Linked DNA regions of Homo sapiens: region 1 is linked to region 2. The links come from fine-mapping of genetic effects on gene expression. A gene starts in region 2. The other region holds a variant in brackets. All regions are shown on one strand. Distances are between the middles of the regions. Region 1 overlaps GPD2 (glycerol-3-phosphate dehydrogenase 2). Region 2 holds the start of NR4A2 (nuclear receptor subfamily 4 group A member 2).

The links. PIP is the estimated chance that this variant, and not a neighbour inherited with it, causes the effect.
Region 1: its variant is the best candidate, but not a certain one, in a credible set for the expression of NR4A2 in whole blood (INTERVAL, PIP 0.67).

What each region holds. Positions count from the first base shown.
Region 1 is chr2:156,443,232-156,453,946 of GRCh38, forward strand. The region is part of intron 1 of GPD2 (glycerol-3-phosphate dehydrogenase 2); the gene reads left to right. Among named protein-coding and RNA genes, the nearest start is that of GPD2, 12 kb to the left of the region's middle. RefSeq lists an enhancer at 2,786-2,845. The variant G/A (reference allele first, on the strand shown) is at 5,038.
Region 2 is chr2:156,327,543-156,338,257 of GRCh38, forward strand. NR4A2 (nuclear receptor subfamily 4 group A member 2) reads right to left here and starts at 5,179. Exons shown (of 8, transcript NM_006186.4): 1 at 4,938-5,179; 2 at 3,126-3,249; 3 at 1,781-2,646; 4 at 862-991; 5 at 309-472. The coding sequence starts at 2,644. It overlaps FLJ46875 (a long non-coding RNA gene), which reads right to left. Exons shown (of 1, transcript NR_147695.1): 1 at 9,030-10,715. RefSeq lists a silencer at 4,931-5,130 and enhancers at 5,361-5,440, 6,910-7,782, 7,341-7,440.

The DNA of each region.
Region 1 (10,715 bases), 120 kb after region 2:
TTTATGCTACTCATAATTCCCTTATAGATGCTTGTCTCCTGTAATTATTTGCAAGCATGCATAATTTTCTTTCCTATGGAAGATCATGCTGGATCTTACACAATTTTGTAGACCTCACATGCCTAATCCAAGTGCCTTTCATGTGGGTGACACCTAGTAAGCAGTTGTTCATTAATGGTTGCCCCATAATTCAGTCATCCCCAATTCAGCAATAAGTGATAAGAGTGTGCTGGGTGTGATTGGACACCAGATACCACACAGGCAGGTGTATTTCAGGTAATCTATTCAACTGGATACTTTAAGCTTCATCTTTTTTTAGGCATCTCCCTCCCTACACATTTGGCAGTTTTAATCTTTTTATTTTTATTTCAAAATTTTTTTCCCTCCCAAGGTGCTGAGAGGTTTAATATCTTAAGGATATTTAGGAGAGGGAAGGGGCGAAGTGACATTATAAAAGGAATCCTTGAAGAAAATCAGTGGAGGAATCTACAAATAAGGAGGCCACTTAATGTCCACTGAGGACTCAGCACCTCTGTCAGGACACCAGGGCTTCCTTCTCTTCACCAATTTCTCCCTTCCCCCTACTTACCCACCTAATCCAATCTCTTAAGAAAGAATCTGGAAAATGAATTCCTAACAAGATGACTTACAAAAATTACCTTGTCCCCCTTATCAAAGGCGTTGGATTCTATGGGGACAGCGCATTGGGGACCATTTATGTGGGCTAGGTCAAAGGTGGGCAGTGCCTACTTCTGAGCATCCCTGCAGCCACATTATAGCCACTCAAGTGTGGCTTTGGTCACTGTCTGGACCTTTCACTTTTCTCCTTGTCAAATAAGGTGGCTGGACTGGATGAATTTGAAGTCCATGGAGAGCATGAAATGTTTATTTCTCTTGTCCTGCCTAAAAGGAAGCCAGTCATGGCCACTGGGTTCTGTTTGCCTCTGGACCCTGGCCTAGATTTTCCTTTTATTACCTGGAGTTTGGGGTTTCCTTGCTCTCAGCCTCTCCAGGTATAGCATTCACATCTAGAGGCTGCCACATTCCTTTTATCTCTCTTCAGGATTATGCTCATAGGACCTATCATAACAAGTATATTTTCACTTTTTTCTTTCACTGTGTTTGCTAGTATTAACCCCTTTTCCCCATCCCCATCCGCCATTAAGTAGCTGGGATACTTATCTAAAAAATATAGATTCCGCAGGGGGCAGTGGCTCATGCCTGTAATCCCAGCACTTTGGGAGGCCGAGGCAGGTGGATTGCTTGAGGCCAGGAGTTTGAGACCAGCCTGGCCAACGTGGCAAAACCCTGTCTCTACTAAAAATACCAAAATAAGCTAGGCGTGGTGGTGGGTGCCTGTATTCCTAGCTACTCGGGAGGCTGAGGCATGAGAATTGCTTGAAGCTGGGAGGTGGAGGTTGCAGTGAGCGGAGACCACGCCATTGCACTCCAGCCTGGGCAACGGAACAAGACTGTCTCAAAAACAAATACACACACACACACACACACTAACATAATTTTATTTATTATTATTTTTAAAGACAGAGTCTTGCTCTGCTGCCCAGGCAGGAGTGCAGTGGCACATTTATAGCTCACTGCAGCTTTGCACTCCTACGTCACGCGATTCTTCTCCTCAACCTCCTGAGTAGCTAGAATGACAGGTGTGTGCCACCATGCCTGGCTAATTTAAAAAAAATTCTTAGAGACAGTGTCTCACTATGTTGCCCAGGCTGGTCTTGAACTCCTGGCCTCAAGTGATCCTCCTGCCTTTGCCTCAGAAGTGCTGGGATTACAGGCATGAGCCCCTGTGCCTGGCCAGATTCACAGAATTTTAAAATAGGAAGGAGTTTAGCAATTTAACCTAACGTGGTCTTTTTCTTATTAATAATAAACAGCAATGACAAGTATTTATTAAGCAGTTGCCATTTTCTAGGCACTGTGCTGAGTACTTTGTGCACATTTTTTAATGTATCAACAGTGAACCCTGTCATATCAGGGAGCAAAAAGGCACAGAGAAGTTAAGGGACTTAAAGCCATGCATGTGGTTATTTTCTGGTATGGCAGAAACTCCCTTAAAAACTGTTTTAAAAACAATAGAATCGAGAGATAATCCTATTCCTATTTCTGTAATGTATTTCTTGACTTTTGCAACATTGTATTCCACTGCCCAACCATTGAACTGTGCCATTTAACACTTACACTTCCTAATACTTTACCTTGTAGTTCACCAGTTTTCACCAATGATGCTGAACTTGTTTAAATAGTTGCATACATAGCACAGCATGCCTATAATGACATTGCTTATGATTTGACTTGTAGGAATCCACGAAGTTGTTAAAATTTTCTTAGTCTTAATGGATGTAGAAGCAATGTGCAACTTGGTATCAGTCTTCTTTTCTACTCCTATACTTGGGTTTCTGATGGTTATTGTGAAAACGAAAATGATTATGTGTATTGGAGATGTATAAAAATGTATGTTCTCCAGCCTTAGTCATGAGAGAGTTATCTTACCTTTTTCTACACAATACCTTTTTCTATTTCTTGCTGTAGTTTTTTTCAAACTTTCAGCATTTTCTTTGAGTCTTTTATGTCACCCAGGCATTTCTTTATTAAAAGATGATGGTTAGTGGTTAGGGTAGGCTCAACCATCATAACTGAAAGGCCTGAAAATAGATACAAGCTCAAGCACAAGTTTAATTTTTGCTTATATCATGGTCTTTGTTGGTGGATCACTTTCCTTTCAATGATTCAGGCACTCTGGATTCTTCCATTTTATGACTCAGCAATTCCTTAGGGCTTTCTTTTCAACTACAGCCAGCCAGTGGATGGTGAAAGGGAAAGGCAGGAAGCATATCTACTTTCTAAACACACACTTATTTTTTTTGAGATGAGTCTCGCTCTGTTGCCCAGGTTGAGTGCAGTGGGACGATCTCAGCTCACTGCAACCTCTGCCTCCTGGGCTTGAGCGATTCTCCTGCCTCAGCCTCCCAAGTAGCTGGGATTATAGGCATGTGCCACCATGCCCGGCTAATATTTGTATTTTTAGTAGAGATGGGGTTTTGCCATGTTGACCAGGCTGGTCTCGAACTCCTGACCTCAGGCAGTCCGCCCGCCTCAACCTCTCCAAGTGCTGGGATTACAGGTGTGAGCCACTGCGCCTGGCCTTAAACACATAATCTTGAAATGAATGCATTAGTTCTGTTCATATACCATTGGCTGGAAGTCTGTTGTGTAGTGATACTTAGCTGAAAGGGAGATTGGCACATGTAGTCTAGCTGCAAGTCCAGGAAGAAGAGAATATGCATTTTTGATAATGACTTAGCTGTCCCCTTCACAGTGTCCTTGCATTTTTTTTTTTTTTAAGATGGAGTCTGGCTCTGGCACCCAGGCTGGAATGCAGTGGCACGATCTTGGCTCACTGCAACCTCTGCCTCCTGGGTTTAAGCCTCAGCCTCCAGAGTAGCTGGGATTACAGGTACGTGCCACCATGCCTGGCTAATTTTTATATTTTTAGTAGAGACAAGGTTTCACCATGTTGGCCAGGCTGGTCTCGAACTTGTGATTTGCCTGCCTTGGCCTCCCAAAGTGCTGGGATCACAGACATGAGCCACAGCACCCGGCCCTTGCCTTCTATTATTCTGAGAGAATTGAAATAACATGTCAAATCTTAAAATTTTTCTCCTTTCCACATCATTTTTATATCTGAATCCATCAACCCCTCATTAATTCTTGACTTAGAGGTGGTTATCCGAAGTTGATGCTTTCCCCCGTACTCTGGATCCCCCATTCCCTTCAGATGCCTTATTCTATGACATTTTTCTATGCTTACCTGCATGTATTTATTTGTTTGTTTGTGTTGGAGATGCTGAGATGCATTTCAAATATTTACAAGAATGCTCAAGATTCTCCCATTACAAAAACAAACAAGACCAATAACCAACATTGCACCTGTGCCCCATTCTGCCCTCTTGCTACATGCTCTCTTTCTCCTTTCCTTCAAGCTGTTCTTCCTTAAAGTACTTTTTGTGCATTATTTTTCTACTTCTTCACCTTCCATTCCCTCCACAACTGTTGGAATCTGTCTTCGATCTCAGATGAATCTCTCTCTTTTTTTTTTTCCTGAGACAGGGTCTTATCCTGTCACTCAGGCTGGATTGCAGTAGCACAATCATAGTTCATGGCAGCCTTGAACTCCTGGGCTCAAGCGATCCTCCTACGTCAGCCTCCTGAGTGGCTGGGACCCCAGGTTCAGGCCATCATACCTGATTGATTTTTACTTTTTTTATAGAGATGGAGCCTTGCCATGTGGCCCAGGCTGGTCTTGAACTCCTGGGCTTGAGCGATTCTCCCTCCTTAGCCTCCCAAAGTGCTGGGATTACAGGTGTGAGCCTGGCCCAACTCTGCTCTTGTTATGATTATGAGTGTCCTCTTGACTGACAAATCAATGAGATTTTATTATTTAAAATTTCCATGATTCTGCTCATTCTCTTTTCTGTGAAACTGAGTTTTCACTAGGCTACTGTGACATCTTCTCTTGGATTACTCCTTATGGATCTCTCTGCAGGTTCTTTGCCTTGATATTGGAATTCCCAGGGTCTGTCTTTAGTTCACTCTCTTTTCTCTGTTGATGCTTTTTCAACAAGTTCATCAATATCCCTGATTTCAGTCAATCCCAAGTCAACATTCTTGGGCAGACTTATTCGCTGAACTCAGGCATTTCCACTTGCATGTCCCACAGTTGAGTCAGGACCCATAATTTCTTCCTGCTTTCCCATGCTATTCCTTTCCTTATTGACAAATGCCATCATCTTTTCTCTCACTGCCTACATCATCCATCCATTTGTTTGTTAGGTCTATCAATCACCTAATATGTGTCAGCAATTTTCCCTTTTTTTTTTTTTGACTCTTGCTCTGTTGCCCAGGCTGGAGTGCAGTGGCATGATCTCGGCTCATTGCAACCTCCGCCTCCCAGGTACAAGCAATTCTCTGCCTCAGCCTCCCGAGTAGCTGGGATTACAAGCACCTGCCACCATGCCC[G/A]GCTAATTGTTTTGTATTTTTAGTAGAGACGGGGTTTCACCATCTTGGTCAGGCTGGTCTTGAGCTCCTGACCTCGTGATCCACCACCTTGGCCTCCCAAAGTGCTGGGATGGGATTACAGGCGTGAGCCACTGCGCCTGGCCTATGTCAGCAATTTTTCTACAAATAAGATTATAGTGGTGTACAAAACAAACACAGTTTCTGTTCTTGTAGAATTATGTTTTAGTGGGGAACAAAGAAATAATAATGCTTAAATAAAGGAGAGACATGAGAAGATAAGAGTTGTATGCATACTTTGGATTTGAATAATTTGGGAAGGCCTCTCTGAGGACTTGACATTTAAGCTGAGTCGTGAATGACTGGAAGGAGCTTGCCATGCAAAGTTGAGGAGCAGAGCATTCCAGGTAGAGGCAGCTGGCCCCAAAACACTAATAGTAATCCTGATTTGACAGACATCAGAAGGCAAATAAATCTGGAACTTAGTGGGTAAGAGTGAGAGGTGTCTGTATTGGTGTCCTGTGGCTGCTGTAACAAATGACCACAAACTTGGTGGCTTAAAACAACAGAAATTTATTCTTTCATCATTCAGGATGCCGGAAATCTGAAGTCAGTTTCACTGTGCCAAAATTAAGGAGTTAGCAGGATGTGCTCCCTTCTGAGGAGTGAATATGGTCCTTAACTCCTTCAGGTTCTGGTGGCTTCTGGCATTCCTTGGCTGTGGCTGCATCACTCCAGTCTCTACTTCTGTGGTCACATCATTGCATTCTCATCTGTATCAAATCACCCTGTCTTCTTCTTACAAAGATGTAAAGTGATTACATTTAGGGTTCCCCCTGGTAATTCAGAATAACCTTTCCCTCTTAAGGTCTTAATTTAATCACATTGGTGAATTTTTTTTTTTCCTTATAACATTCACAGGTTCCAGGGATTAGGATGAGGATATGTTGTGGGCGTCATTATTTAACCTACTGCAGTGAAGGGCTGGATCCTATAGGTCTTTATAATCCAAGGTGAGATGTTTAGATTTCATTCTAGGGTGCTAGAAACCATTAGAGGATTATATGCAGGCAAGAGAAACTGTGTGGTTTTGCTATAAAGTAGTCTTTCTTAATTTCTTCTCACTGTACCTTTCCAAGAAGAAAAATTAAATTAAAATTAATTAATTAAAAACTTAATTTCTCCCCAACAAGAGAGTACTGCTTAAATGCTAAGAAGATTTTGTTGGGTAGAGTTGAAGTTTGGAGGGCCACAGACAATTGTAATATGCAATATTTTTTCACCTGCCAAGAAGCAACTGTGGGTGATATTGCTCTCATTGAGAATACATGCCATCAAAGATTATGCTGGCTGCTACAAGTAAACAGAATATGGGAAGTGGGAGTTAGTTAGTCTGTTTTGGTTGCCCAACCAAGAACTTATTATTGAATGGACAACCATTGTATTAAAGATAGAAAAAAGTGGCCTGGGCGTGGTGGCTTATGCCTGTAATCCCAGCACTTTGGGAGGCTGAGGCGGGTGAATCACATGAGGCCAGGAGTTCGAGACCAGCCTGGCCAATATGGCAAAACTCCATCTCTACTAAATATACAAAAAAAAAAAAGCCGGGCATGGTGGCACATGCCTGTAATCCCAGCTACTAGGGAGGCTGAGGCAGGAGCCTTGAACCTGGGAGGTGGAGGTTGCAGTGAGCCAAGATTGTGCCACTGCACTCCAGCCTGGGTGACAGAGTGAGACTCTGTCTCAAAGAGAAAAAAGCATAGAAAGAAGTGGATAGATTCAGGATATATTTTTGAGATAGAATTAGTTGGGTGAACTTGCCTGCTAGATTATTTGGAGGAAAGGAAGAAGAATAAAAGAAAGGCTTGCATTTTCTATTTGAGAGCTGGTCCACTTACTGAGAAGGGGAGAGCTGGGAGAGAGGCAGACTTGATGGAAGATATAAAGTGTTCTGCTTTGGCTAAGTTTGAAGTGATTATTAGATATTCCTTTGGAGATGTCAGACAACTGGGTGAATGGGGTTTGGAGATTCTGAGAGGGGTTTGGCTGAGGATACAGACTTAGGAATTATTTGCATATAGGTTATATTTGATACTGGATGGAGTTACCTACAGAGAATGTATATAGAGAGAAGCAGGCCATTGAGCAACTATTATATAGAAGAGAAGGAGGAGTTGCCAGTGGGATGGGATGGAAAGCAGAAGAGCGTGGTGTCTCTGAGGCTAAGAATTCAAAAGATATTAAAAAAGAGACGGTTCTACTATGTTAATTATAGAGATTACATTTGGTGAAATGAGGTCATTTGTGATTTTGACAATTTGACATATAGTTTAAGAAGAGGCTGGGACAAAGTTTATTGGATTAAATTGTGGAAGTGGAGACAGTTCTTATAGACAACTCTTTTTTTTTTTTTTTTTATTGCTCATTCTTGGGTGTTTCTCGCAGAGGGGGATTTGGCAGGGTCACAGGACAATAGTGGAGGGAAGGTCAGCAGATAAACAAGTGAACAAAGGTCTCTGGTTTTCCTAGGCAGAGGACCCTGCGGCCTTCCGCAGTGTTTGTGTCCCTGGGTACTTGAGATTAGGGAGTGGTGATGACTCTTAACGAGCATGCTGCCTTCAAGCATCTGTTTAACAAAGCACATCTTGCACCGCCCTTAATCCATTTAACCCTGAGTGGACACAGCACATGTTTCAGAGAGCACAGGGTTGGGGGTAAGGTCACAGATCAACAGGATCCCAAGGCAGAAGAATTTTTCTTAGTACAGAACAAAATGAAAAGTCTCCCATGTCTACTTCTTTCTACACAGACACGGCAACCATCCGATTTCTCAATCTTTTCCCCACCTTTCCCCCCGTTCTATTCCACAAAACCGCCATTGTCATCATGGCCCGTTCTCAATGAGCTGCTGGGCACACCTCCCAGACGGGGTGGTGGCCGGGCAGAGGGGCTCCTCACCTCCCAGTAGGGGTGGCCGGGCAGAGGCGCCCCTCACCTCCCGGACGGGGCAGCTGGCAGGGCGGGGGGCTGACCCCCCCACCTCCTTTCCGGACAGGGCGGCTGGCCGGGCGGGGGTGCTCCTCACTTCCCAGTAGGGGCGGCTGGGCAGAGGCGCCCCTCACCTCCCGGACGGGGCAGCTGGCAGGGCGGGGGGCTGACCCCCCCACCTCCCTCCCGGACGGGGCGGCTGGCCGGGCGGGGGGCTGACCCCCCCACCTCCCTCCCGGAAGGGGCGGCTGGCCGAGCGGGGGGGCTGACCCCCCCACCTCCCTCCCAGACGGGGCGGCTGGCCGGGCGGGGGTCTGACCCCCCCACCTCCTTCCCGGACAGGGCGGCTGGCCCGGCAGAGGGGCTCCTCACTTCCCAGTAGGGGCGGCTGGGCAGAGGCGCCCCTCACCTCCCGGACGGGGCAGCTGGCAGGGCGGGGGGCTGACCCCCCCACCTCCCTCCCGGACGGGGCGGCTGGCCGGGCGGGGGGCTGACCCCCCCACCTCCCTCCCAGACAGGGTGGCTGCCGGGCGGAGACACTCCTCACTTCCCAGACGGGGTGGCTGCCAGGCGGAGGGGCTCCTCACTTCTCAGATGGGCGGAGGGTCTCCTCACTTCTCAGACGGGGCGGCCGGGCAGAGACGCTCCTCACCTCCCAGACGGGGTCGCGGCCGGGCAGAGGCGCTCCTCACATCCCAGACGGGGCGGCGGGGCAGAGGCGCTCCCCACATCTCAGACGATGGGCGGCCGGGCAGAGATGCTTCTCTCTTCCTAGATGGGATGGCGGCCGGGCAGAGACGCTCCTCACTTTCCAGACTGGGCAGCCAGGCAGAGGGGCTCCTCACGTCCCAGACGATGGGTGGCCAGGCAGAGACGCTCCTCACTTCCCAGACTGGGTGGCGGCCGGGCAGAGGCTGCACTCCTGGCACTTTGGGAGGCCAAGGCAGGCGGCTGGGAGGTGGAGGTTGTAGCGAGCCGAGATCACGCCACCTCACTCCAGCCTGGGCACCATTGAGCACTGAGTGAACCAGACTCCGTCTGCAATCCCGGCACCTCTGGAGGCCGAGGCTGGCGGATCACTCGCGGTTAGGAGCTGGAGACCAGCCCGGCCAACACAGCAAAACCCCGTCTCCACCAAAAAAATACAAAAACCAGTCAGGCGCGGCGGCGCGCACCTGCAATCGCAGGCTGAGGCAGGAGAATCAGGCAGGGAGGTTGCAGTGAGCCGAGATGGCAGCAGTACAGTCCAGCTTCGGCTCGGCATCAGAGGGAGACCATGGAAAGAGAGGGAGAGGGAGACCGTGGGGAGAGGGGAGAGGGGAGAGGGAGAACTCTTTCAAGAAGTTTCATTATGAAGGAAAGCAGAGACGTGGAAAAGTTCTTGGAAGAGGATATTGGTCAAGGGAGGGTTTGTTAGAACTAGAGGATAATACAGTGAATTTCTATGCTGACAAAATGATTAAGTAGAGAAGAGGAGCTGATGAAGGTAGGAGAGAGTGGTGGGTAATTGTACAAATAAAATTTCTGAAGAGCCAGGAAGGAAGGGGATCTAGTGTACAAATAGAATGATTGGTCTTTACTTGAAACAGGCACATTTTATTAGTAAAAGGAAGGACTGCAGAGAGAATGAGTACAGAGGTGGATAAGTCATCATTTGGGTGGTGGGAAGATGAAATTTTTACCTAGTTGCATCTACTTTACTTTCCCAGTGAAGTGTGATGATATTGGGGTGTGGAGGGGTGAAACAGGTTTGGGAAAAGAGATTTCAAATGGCTATTTTGAAACATCCTGGGGAAATGTAATAGGATTGTGGGTCAGTGTGGATTGCACATTAATGATTTGCAGCTATGAATTTAAATTGAGGCCAGTTGTGGTTGCATGTTTTTTTTCCCAGGCAGTTTCTTCAGCTGTTTGGGTGGAGATGTGAAACAGGCAGATAGTTGGGTTTAACTGGTTTGGGGGTTTGCCAAGTAAAAATGAAGCATGAAGAGAGGAGCAAGGGAGTTAAGGGTGCTTGGAAGGGAGAAATTACAGTGATGGACCTAATTTAATTCTCAGCTAGGCAGCAGGAGAAGTGACTGATAGTGAAGCAAATAGTAGGGTCAATGGACTGAAGGGCCAGATAATGCCAAGATGGTGGAATGGAAATTCCAGACTACAGTAGATAAACTGAAGAAAGAGAAGGTGGTGTTTACAGTGTAGGGTGCTTGAGGCTGGAGTCTGCGGAGTTGATATAAATAGTGGGGATGCCCAAATCAGAGGTTATGATAATGAGGTAGGGTCAAACAAAGGTCATCAGAGGTGAGGTGGTTGAGGAATTGGAGCCTTCATGTAGTTGTAGAAAACAGCAATGATGGCCGGGCCTGTAATCCCAGCACTTCGGGAGGCTGAGGCGGGTGGATCACCTGAGGTCAGGAGTTTGAGACCAGCCTGGCTAACATGGCAAAACCATGGCTCTACTAAAGATACAAAAATTAGCTGGGCATGGTGGCACATGCCTGTGATCCCAGCTACTTGGGAGGCTGAGGCAGGAGAATCGCTTGAACCCGGGAGGTGGAGGTTGCAGTGAGCTGAGATCACGCCACTTCACTGCAGCCTGGGTGACAGAGTGAGACTCTGTCTCAAAAACAAAAAACAAAACAAAAAAGAAAACTGCAATGATGAAGACAGATGAGTCTGGAAAGGGAAATAGG
Region 2 (10,715 bases):
GTAGAGGCACTGGTGTATATGGAAGAGGAGGGGCGATGGGGTAGTGGGGTAGTGGGAATTCACACAGCTTCAAACCCTGTGGCGTGTCCCTCTCCTCCTTCCTCCATCCTGTCCTCATGTCTATGCCCCCAGCTACATGGATTGTCTGAAGATCTGAATCTTGAGGCCCTGGCCAGAGCTGCGAGGCATATACAGCCTTGCTTGCCTTCTTTACCCCCGTTGAATCTGAGAGTTAATGACGGATGTGGGGAGGGGTCCTGCCCATCTGTCGGTTTGTCCACATGATATCCCCCCCGCCAGCTTCTTACCCTGGAATAGTCCAGGCTGGTCATAGCCGGGTTGGAGTCGACATGGGCCCTGACGAGGGCACTGATCAGACTCACCGGGGGCGAAGGGGGAGAGGGCTCCTGTGGGCTCTTCGGTTTCGAGGGCAAACGACCTCTCCGGCCTTTTAAACTGTCTGTGCGAACCACTGCAAAGGAAGAGCCCTGTTAGCGCCGCTTTTCCGAGCCCAGGCCCAGCTGCTGCCTCGGTCCCTCCCCGGGGAAGGCCGCAGCCGCGGGGCACCAGGCTGAGCGGCTGAGGGCCCCAGTGCTTGTAAAGCCTTCACTGACTAGAAGCATTAAAAAATGCGGGGTTATTTTATGTCTTCCTCCAAATGGGTCGTATAGTTAAAGGAGAGAAGGGCCTGGCGGCTTTCTCTAGGGAAGGCCGGGCAAGCAGGCAGCTGCAGGGTCCTGGAGGCCATACTGAGGGGGAGTCGGAGATCCCCAGCACCGGGAAGTGGAACGTGATGCTGGAGTATGAGCAGTGGTTTCCTAAAGGCGCAAACTGGAGGGTCGGCAGCTCCCCTCAGCCTACCTTCTTTGACCATCCCAACAGCCAGGCACTTCTGAAATCGGCAGTACTGACAGCGATTCCGGCGACGCTTGTCCACTGGGCAGTTTTTATTTGCTAAACACACGTATTTTGCATTTTTTTGCACTGTGCGCTGCAAAAGGAGACAATATAGACCAACATTTTTTTTCTTCTTTTGAAAATCAGGCAACTCGGAGAAAATTTCTGTTATGTGACTGGGGTCTACGATTCCTCCCCACAAACAAACACATACACACAATTCCATTTTATTTTTTTCTCTTCCTTTTCTTTCTTTCTTTTCTTTTTTCCTCCCCCAGGGCATTTAACAGAAGAAAATTGATAGCGTTAACATTTGAGCTAACCTTGCCGCTCCTTGCTGTGTTTTATATGCCAAGAGAAGGAGAAGGAGACGCTCAGTAAATACAAATCCGTGGGCATTCATATTATTTACATTCCTTGGAGACCTTCTCTATTTAAAATGATAAGATTATTCAATCAGGATGGCGAAATAAAGAGATCACTTAATTTGACCATAGGGAATTCTGTTCCACTTGGTTAGCTCAGACACGGTTCTCTGTCCTAACCAATTTCATTCTGAACAGGGAAGACAGCTCCTAGCACATGCAAATGACCCTCTTCCAACTCCGGCTCCAGCAACTTCGGGCGGGGGCCAGCCGGGTCGGCTGAATGCGAGGGGGATGCGACCCTGGCCTCCCAGTCTTTCTGCTTCCCTTTCTCAGACACCCGGAAGTCCCCGCCGCAGCCCATGGTCTCCTGCAGGGCAGCTTCGGCGGACCCCGGAGAGCTGGGCAGTCCCGGGAGAGCTGGGGCTGGGCTACTGGCACCAAGGCAGAGGGCACACTCCGAGGTCCCGGGCACTAGGGGCTCCCTACCTGCCTACTCCGCTCCCGCCATTGCTCACCTTAAAGAAGCCTTTGCAGCCCTCACAGGTGCGCACGCCGTAGTGTTGGCAGGCCGCGTTGTCCCCACACACAGCGCACAGCCCCTCGTTGGAGGGGGAGCCCCGCGACGGCGGTGAGGGCACCTGCGTGTCGAGCAGCTGAGACGCGTGGCCGATCTGCAGGCCCGGGAAGCCCATGGACGCGGGCTTGCGAATGGGGTTGGGCACAGCGAAGGTCTGCCCGTCCACCACGTGGTGGCTGCCGGCGGGCTCCGGGTTCATGGGGACGTGCAGGGGCCCGTCGAAGCGCATCTGGCAACTAGACACCGGGGTGCCAGGGGGCGATTGCTTAAAGGAGAAGAGGGAGAGGCGGGAGACTGGCGTTTTCCTCTGCTCGATCATGTGCGTAGTGGCCACGTAGTTCTGGTGGAAGTTGTGGAGAGATCCCGGGTCGTCCCACATGGGGCTGTGCTGCACCTGGAAGCCCGGGGTGGTGGGCGTCGGGGGCGAGGAGGGCTTGTAGTAAACCGACCCGGAGTGCGGCATCATCTCCTCAGACTGGGGGGGCAGGTGGCTGTGTTGCTGGTAGTTGTGCATCTGAATGTCTTCTACCTTAATGGAGGACTGCTGTCCGGACAGGGGCATTTGGTACAAGCAAGGTGGCTTGACGTCGTAGCCTGTGCTGTAGTTGTCCATAAAGGTACTGAAGCTGGGGAGAGAAGTGGTGGCAGTGATTTCAGTGTTGGTGAGGTCCATGCTAAACTTGACAAACTCTGGAGTTAAGAAATCGGAGCTGTATTCTCCCGAAGAGTGGTAACTGTAGCTCTGAGAAGCGGGGCTGGCTCCTTGAGGCGAGGACCCATACTGCGCCTGAACACAAGGCATGGCTGGAAATGAAACAGGGTGATAACACACTCAGCCTGGTCAACTGAACACTTTCTCCCGGGCTCGGGTACACCTGGAGCTACACCGGCAGCCCGCGGCAGTCAGAGAGCATGTAGGGGCGCGAGAGGAAAGGCAGGAGAGAGAGAATGCTGCAGAACAACAGTTTAGGGCGTGGAAAGACTAACCAAATAAAGACCCAGAGCTAAAAAGCTACTGAGGGTCTACACTCCTGGGTATTTCCAAACATCTCCCTCATACCCCCCCACTCATCCCACTCAGATGAGCCTCTTCTCTGAAGCTCAGATTCAGCAGTCTCTTTCTAGAAATGACCATCTAGAAATGAAGTTGAATTTCACAATGAGAAAGTTGTTCCCGAAGGCGATGGGTCGGGCAAACCTTAAGTTACAGGGTTTGCCTTGTCCTGTTTCTTGATGTTTGGGGAGCTCTGGAGAGTAAAGGAAAGAAATGAAGTTGCACTAACCTTCAGCCGAGTTACAGGCGTTTTCGAGGAAATTAAAGGTGGACAGTGTCGTAATTCAATGAAGGACAAAGTTTCCAAGATTTTTAGAAAAGCAATGGGGAGTCCAGCCTGTCCAATCTCCTCCCTGAAATACAGACACAGGAAGCTTCAGGGTTTCTTCCCGACAGAGATTCAGCTGGGCATATGTAGACTCACCAGGCAGGCCCTTCCATGCCTTCCCTGTTTGTCTCATTGGAAATGAGTGGGAAGCCTTTACCAAACATAGCACTTAAAATGAATGTATAAAAGAAATGACTTGAAACAACAGAAAATACCACCCATTGCACTGTGTAAATCCTTGCAGAGAGAAGATCCTGCAAGAGGAAAGCTAGTCCATGAACTCATTTAACATTTATGATGTAATGAACTGGCCCCTTTGCTACAGTGTAGGTGGAGAGGTCATTTCCATCTTAGGTTAATTCAGGACCTGAGTATGAAGACTAGAGTATGAAAATACAGCATTGGAACCTTCTCTTGCATTTTTTTTTCTTGTGGTGAAATTGCCTTTTCTTTTGGTAGAGGGGAAGAAAGTAGAAGTCAAGAATATAAAATGAGAAAACAATCTTCCCCCTTACAAAATGTTAGAAAGGCCTTGACTGAGAAGGCAAGTTGAGTGGAAGCATCCGCACTTCTAAAGTGCTTTTGACAGAGCACTGGGATTGGAGCTACAGATAAATTGATGTTCACTTTTCCAGAAAACTTGTCTTTCAGCATCTTTAATGGTCACAAGGCTTAATGGTCACAAGGTGGGAAGAGGGGATCTACTTTTCCAGGAGCTTCTTAGGTCAATTGCAGAGGGGGGACATACTGCTTATATGGTATTGGCACCAATATTAGAAGTGTTTCCCAGCACAGCAAGATGAACACCTTCCCCATAATGCCTTCCACAATCTGCCTTTCTGGAACAAGGCATTCTTGTGTCCTAGCAATTTTCAGATGTTCCCACTTGGAAGACATTCTAGAGCACAGACAATCTTATTACTAATGAAAAAAGAAAGCCAGTATCCTCTCTTTTTATTCTTTCCCCTCCCCCACAATCTTGCTTCATAGTGGTGGTGGGGGTGGGGGGAAGATTACCCAGAAAAAGCAGAAAGGAGACTCGAACCCCACAGCCCTTAGAGATATTCCTGTGTTGGATATTAACCCCCTGGTAGCTCCACAGTTTCATAACTGTACTCTTTACATATTCATATTCTCGCTCTGATACATTCGCAAACCCAAGGACAGCATATGTCAAAACCAGAAATTTCAGGCAACTTAGTAACAGGACACGCTACCAACACCACCCTTACTCAACAATACCCGGGAAACATCGCGCGCTGGCCAGCCGCGGAGACACAGTTCCCAAGCAACGCATAAACTGAAGAACTTCCTCTCCCTGTCAGTTTGTGGGCAGCTTCCCTCGTATACATAGGACTTGGAGTCTCCGTGTTCACAGGCCACAATCAATTCCTCACTAACAGCAAACTTTGCGCACATTTCCGCGGGCTAGTCCTCAGCTCCCAAACTGTGGAGTCTCCCTTCCACGTCCACCAATGAGGAGCCTGGAAACCTCTGTCGAGAGCCAACTCCCCACTAGTGCCAAAGCCGGAGTTCGAACAAATGCCCCCCGGTAACTGCGCGCACGCACTCCCCATCCTTCGGTCCCACTCTCACTAGAAGCCTCTGGCTCCCACTTCCAGAGAACCTGTCCCACACAAGTGGAAAGAAGAGACGTGCAAAAGAAGGAAAAAGCATAAAAGAAGGCGAACTGCATGGGCTGCATCTACTCACTTAGGAGTTCTCCGCGTCTGTCTTCATTCATTCAACTCTGCCGAAGTGCAGTTCCCTCTGGGAGCCCGGGCGCCGGGGTCGGGTAGGGGTGGGAGAGCTGGGCGAAGGGAACCCGGACACCTCACGGAGGGAGGGAGCAGGGACAGGCGGCCGGCTGGACAGGCAAAAGGGACCGCGGAGCCGTGCGCGAGCCGCCGGGCGGACTGGCCCTGGCCGCCAATGTGCCTTTGTTTATGTGGCTTGCGCTGCCGCTGCCAACATGCACCTAAAGTCTCCGCGCGTCAGCGCGCGTCAGCGGCCCGCCGCCCAATCGCCGCGCTGCCGCGCTCCCTGGACTCCTGGCCCGCGCTCGCTTTGGTATATTTCCGACCTGACGTCACGAGCAGGGCCGATTTTAAGGTGGGAACCGCTCTGCGTTCACCTTGGTAGCCAGCTTGGGTGGTTTTTGGTGTTTTTTTTCTTTTCTTTTTTTTTTTCCGAAAGAGGTGTGACCTCTCCCAGGTCTGCGCAGCCCGCAGCGTCGCGACACTTCACTTTCCCCGAAGCCCCTGCGCCCGCGCAGCGGCTCGGCCGCTCACATGTGGGGAGGGTGCAACAAAAGCACCGGCGGAAGGCAAGGCCGGCGTGGCCAGGTAGTACGCACCTGGAGCCGCACGGAATGGGATGTGCCTTGCAGCGCCCTAACCTCTCCCACCCACCTTCGTCACCCCCTTAGCGGAAGAGCGTACAGATGTCCCATGACACGAGACGCTCAGAGGGCTCACGCAGTTCGGGTGGGATTTCCCTACCCGGTTCATCCCCTTTTACTCCCTTTTCCTGTCCCAGGCCTCCTCCTCTTCTGGCATATATTCATTCTAATTATCTCTCTCTCTCACTCTCTCTACCCCACCCCCACCCCCCACACTCCCATCTGAAAGGGAATGGGAGTGGGGGTAGGGCTTATTTTTCTATGTTTCCTTATTTCCATGCAGTGCCCACGTTCGATGGAGGACGTGGTGCTTGCGGGGGGGGGGGAGAGGAAGGGGAGAGGGTAGACAGTGACCGTGACCCAGCTCTTTAGAAACCCCAAAAGTCAGAGTGAAGCGTCGCCCCTTTTCCTTTCGCAGACAATGCAGCCGAGCAGCAGGCAACAGGTGCGCCTTCTGCAGAAAGGTACTCTGATTCCCACCTTCTGCAAACTCTAATACTTTCGATACTCCTCTGTGCCCACCAACTCGTACCCCTTCCACGAGTTTTAAGGGAATAAATCGATCTTCGTTTGAAACACAAGGTCTATCACAGCCTCAATCTTAGAGCCCAGAAAGACTGGACAAGAAAAGCGAAGCGGGTGGGGATTGGGGGCAGCGTCTCCGCAAAGCGTAAGGTGTGAGCCTACAGCCCAGCCAGGAGAGGGGCCCGAGCTGGCTCTGGGAGCGTGTCCCACCCCCGCGGCCGTCCAAGTCGCCGCCGCTTCTGCTTTGCAAGTCATTTCCCCTAGCCACGCCGAGAGCGCAGGGAGCTTTCTAGCAAAGGAAACGCCGCAGCTCCGGAGGGCAAGCCCCCTCCCCGTCTCCCGGCCGGAGCTGGGAGGGCTTCCTAGGGCTTCTCCCGCGGGGCTTCCAGCGGCTGGGCCTTGGGAGGGAGAGTTCGGAGCCGCCCCCGCTTTTCTACTCGCGCAGAGCGTCCCAGCCGCCCCTCCTTTCTCGGTGTGGCTCGTTTCCAGGCAGCCGGGACCCTTTTGCAACTTGCCCCCCTACTCGTGTTCTCAGTACCGGCCGATGGCTCCGTGGAACTATTCGGGATCCCGGGCTGCTCAACCCTAATCTGCAGCCCCGCCTTTGCCTACTCCCTGCTGCCCCCAGCTCGCCGGCGGCTGGGGAGGCGTTGCCATCAGATGCCCTGCGGCTGCCCCAGGAAGCCGCGGGCTCTTTTGCGCCGCAGCCTCGGGGAAACCTACGTGACCACCTTAAGTTTCCCCCAGATGTTGCGGCTGCCGCTGCTGCTGCCGCCGCCGCCGCTGCTCGGCGATGCCCTAGCGGGCGCGAGAAAAAAAATAAAACCAGGAAGTGGGTGGGGGGGGCGGGTTGTGGTGGCGGGTGAGGGTGTGTGAGTAGGGGGATGAGGAGGGGAGGGCGAAGAATAGCATATTAGCATGAGCTCGGTAGCGTCAGCGCCCCGTGGGCAGAAGCGATTCCATGCGAACGAAAGGGAAAAAGTGAGAGTTTGGAGAGCTGGGGAGAAGGAAGGGGGTGGGGGTGGCGGTGACGCAGGGGCGCAGGCATTGACGCACCGGCCAGGCTGGGCCCAAAATAGCAGCAACTCCAGCTCAGAGGCGCCCTCCCGGGTTCCCTTCCCCTTCCGCGAGGGAGCAGGGCGCGGCCACGGGAAGCTTTCCTTGATCCCCGCGGTGGGCCAGGCTCCCGGCCGCTATTTTCAGGCAGTCGGAAACTCAAGCACAGGCACGCCGGGGTGGCAGTTATTATTTTTTAATATAGTCCTAGGAAAACGGGGGCCGGGAGAACTTGAAGGTTGTAACCACCAGCCTCCATACACATACTCCCGTCTAAGTAGATACATTCACTCTGCACGCTTCCCCCTCCCTCATTGCCATTAAAAACACATTCAGTTTAGGTTGGGTTGAGCCTGGGACAATTTGAAAATGCCTCCCCAGAGAGCTGAAAAGTGTCCTGGAGTTCTTAAAGTGAGCTCCAAGGAAGCCAAACATTGTAATATGATGCCTTATTCTTTAATAACAACCTGTCGAGTGCGGCTTCCTGATAACAGCCTTTGTCCAAGTCTTAATGCAACCAAGAATGAAGGGTCGTTTTCACAGCAGCTTATTATAACAATTATTATTAACTGGGAATATAATTAAATATAAAATTAAATATAAATTAAAATGAGAGAAAGGGGAGACCTTTCTCATCTATTCCATCATCTGTGTAAGAGTTCTCTCCTCTTCAAAGTCCTATTCTGGTTTCTGGGAAGCTTTTACTGTTTCTTAGGAAGACACGCCGGATGTAAGACTGTTAAACTCGTTTAAACCAATTTTGAATAAGCTACTTCTTAGGCTAGGGTTTCTGTAAGGCCCGGATGAGATGGGTTGGAAAGGATTCAGCATATAGATCAGAAGTGTTTAAAAAAAAAAAAAAGGCCACGCTCAAAACCCCAGACTAGTTTTCCTCACCAGATTCTGATGGGACGATGTCTCAGTAGCACCGCCAATGTGTGTGTAATTGACTGATCCAGTCAGTAGGGGGCCTGACTCCACAACGTTCAAGAGAATCACTCACACACACACACACACACACACACACACACACACACACACACACACACAAGCTATTTACTACCTAAGCTAAACCAAAGAGAATGCTGCAGGCCCAAATATTCATATTGTGCTGGAATTCATAAATAACTAAAAATCTTTGATTCTCTTCTATTTTCTCCAAAAGGGAAACAGTTTTAACACATGGGATTAGGTTCACAAAAGATTTTCTTTATTTCCTCCTGCTCATGCTTAACTCACTGTTAGGTCACAGAAGGAAAAAATCAAACTGGTAATAAAATCTCTCATTTTATCACCAAGAAGTTCAAATTGGCATACAGTTTGGAAAAATGAAAGCATGTTTTAAAATCCTATGATTACATGTTAAATAAATTATAGTTTAGAAGGAGATTCCTGTGGGTATATTTGCTAGTACATAAGAGAATGCTTTTGTGCATAGAGATTTAATTACACATATGGAATCAAAATGTAGAATTGAACAACCTTTCAGAAAATGTTAAAACGATGCTTTAGGCTAAAAGAAACTGAAATTCTGCATTTATATGACTGTAACCCTTCAAGATTCTTGAACATAAATAGTTCAAATAAAGTATTTTATAACTCAATTAAAATGACAATAATGGCTTTTTCAGGCCCCCGCAGCCGATATAACTTTAAACTATTGCCATGTATAAATGTGTAAAGTTACCCCACAATGAAGGTCTATTTTCTTAACAGTTTTTAAAATGAGTGGGAGTAAAAATTGCACCTATCCTCTTTTGAAACCAACTAAAATAAATTAAAAAGCATTACTATTAAGAAACACTATTGGATGACCACAGAAAAACATTTAGGAAAGTAATGTTACTATATTATCTTTTATGACATTAACCAATATTAGGCAGAACATATTGGTACATGTAAACATATTTTCATTAAAAATCAACATAAATAATACATATACTCACATCTAAACCAAAGTAGTTTATTTTATGCATGGCTAGGCAGATTATACTTAATAAAATTGAGCTTTTGGCATAATTTAGAAAGCAAACATGAATGTAATCCCATAGGATTTTCTATTTTAATGCATAGGAAAGAGGCCTTTAGGGATTTATTTCACCATTCTTCCCAAATGAATTCAGAATAGACCTTACAATGCAGATATAGTGAAACAGACATACCTGTTATGCTTTACGAGTTGAGGCAACTTTAAGATTTTTCATAATAAAATTACTTTGTAGAACCTATTTTTAGCATTACAAGATATATATTTTAAATTACATTTGGACAAACTCATTCACAGCATTTGTTGCCATTGGGCAGTAAGTCACATTACTGATACAAGAAATAAATTTTCACTTTGAAAAAAATCTGTTTCTGAAAATACAAAATTAGTTTTTACTTCTGAAAGTGTTTTTATTGTTTTGCTTTTGCCATTTCATTTGCATTGACAGGATAGTAATTGACCAAATTGTTTGTTCCTTTCTCATAGGATGGTTAAAGAACAAGTCAATTGCTTTGTTAATATTCACATTTTGGATAGTTGTAGCTTTTATTCAGTATTTCTCAGCCGATTTTTACCAAAAACCACTTAACACAAATACTTTTAAAATTATTTCTTTCTTTGATACAGAACTCAGTACTAGAAATGTGTAAAGATGTGCAGAAAAAAAACAGCATTCTTTTTTCTGGAAGCATCTTCTTGTAAATTGAAATTATAAAACTGAACATATGGTAAAACCTCATGCCACTCAAAAAGTATTTTGCATAATAAAAATCCTTCATTTTTTGTTAATACTTGACACCCAGTAACCATCTCCTAAATACTTGCTTTTAAATTAACCACTTAATATTTTCTTATTTAAGAACTATTTTTTATTAGGCAAAGAAGAATAACTTTGGTTTTAGATTTCATTGCTAATTTTAGTAAACATAGGCATCACTAAAATGTACAAAGTCCTAAAAGACAGTTTAAAGATTATGAAAATAAGTTGCTACATGCTAAGAAAACATCAAATATCTGCAAATTCTAAAAGTAGTTAATAGCATTATAACACTACCAGTATTAGATAGCATTTATTTAAATTTAGATAAAATACATACATTTTGCAAGTTTTTATATGTAAATCACAAGCTGGCTAGTTTTTGTTCTATCTTTAATGATAAAATAACCACTTTTGATTTTTTCCTCAGACTAATTGGTGGATGGAATGTCTCAATTTAATTTTAAAAATGAAGGTATTGATAATATTGCAACAGAGACATATATGCCCTTTTTCTCATCAGAATTCTGCAATTATCAAGCCTACAATTTTAACACTACAAAAGTAACTTAAAGCAAGGACCCTTATAGTGATAAGTAATAAATCTAATTACCATATCCTTTGAATAGATGTAATATAAATTTCATTGCTCACTTAAAAGTTCTAAAGTTAACAGCATAAACTTGAAGTTGAGTAATTAAGTAATCCTTATATAGACACTTATTAAAGTATTTATACATATTATCTTAAATCTACATCTATCAT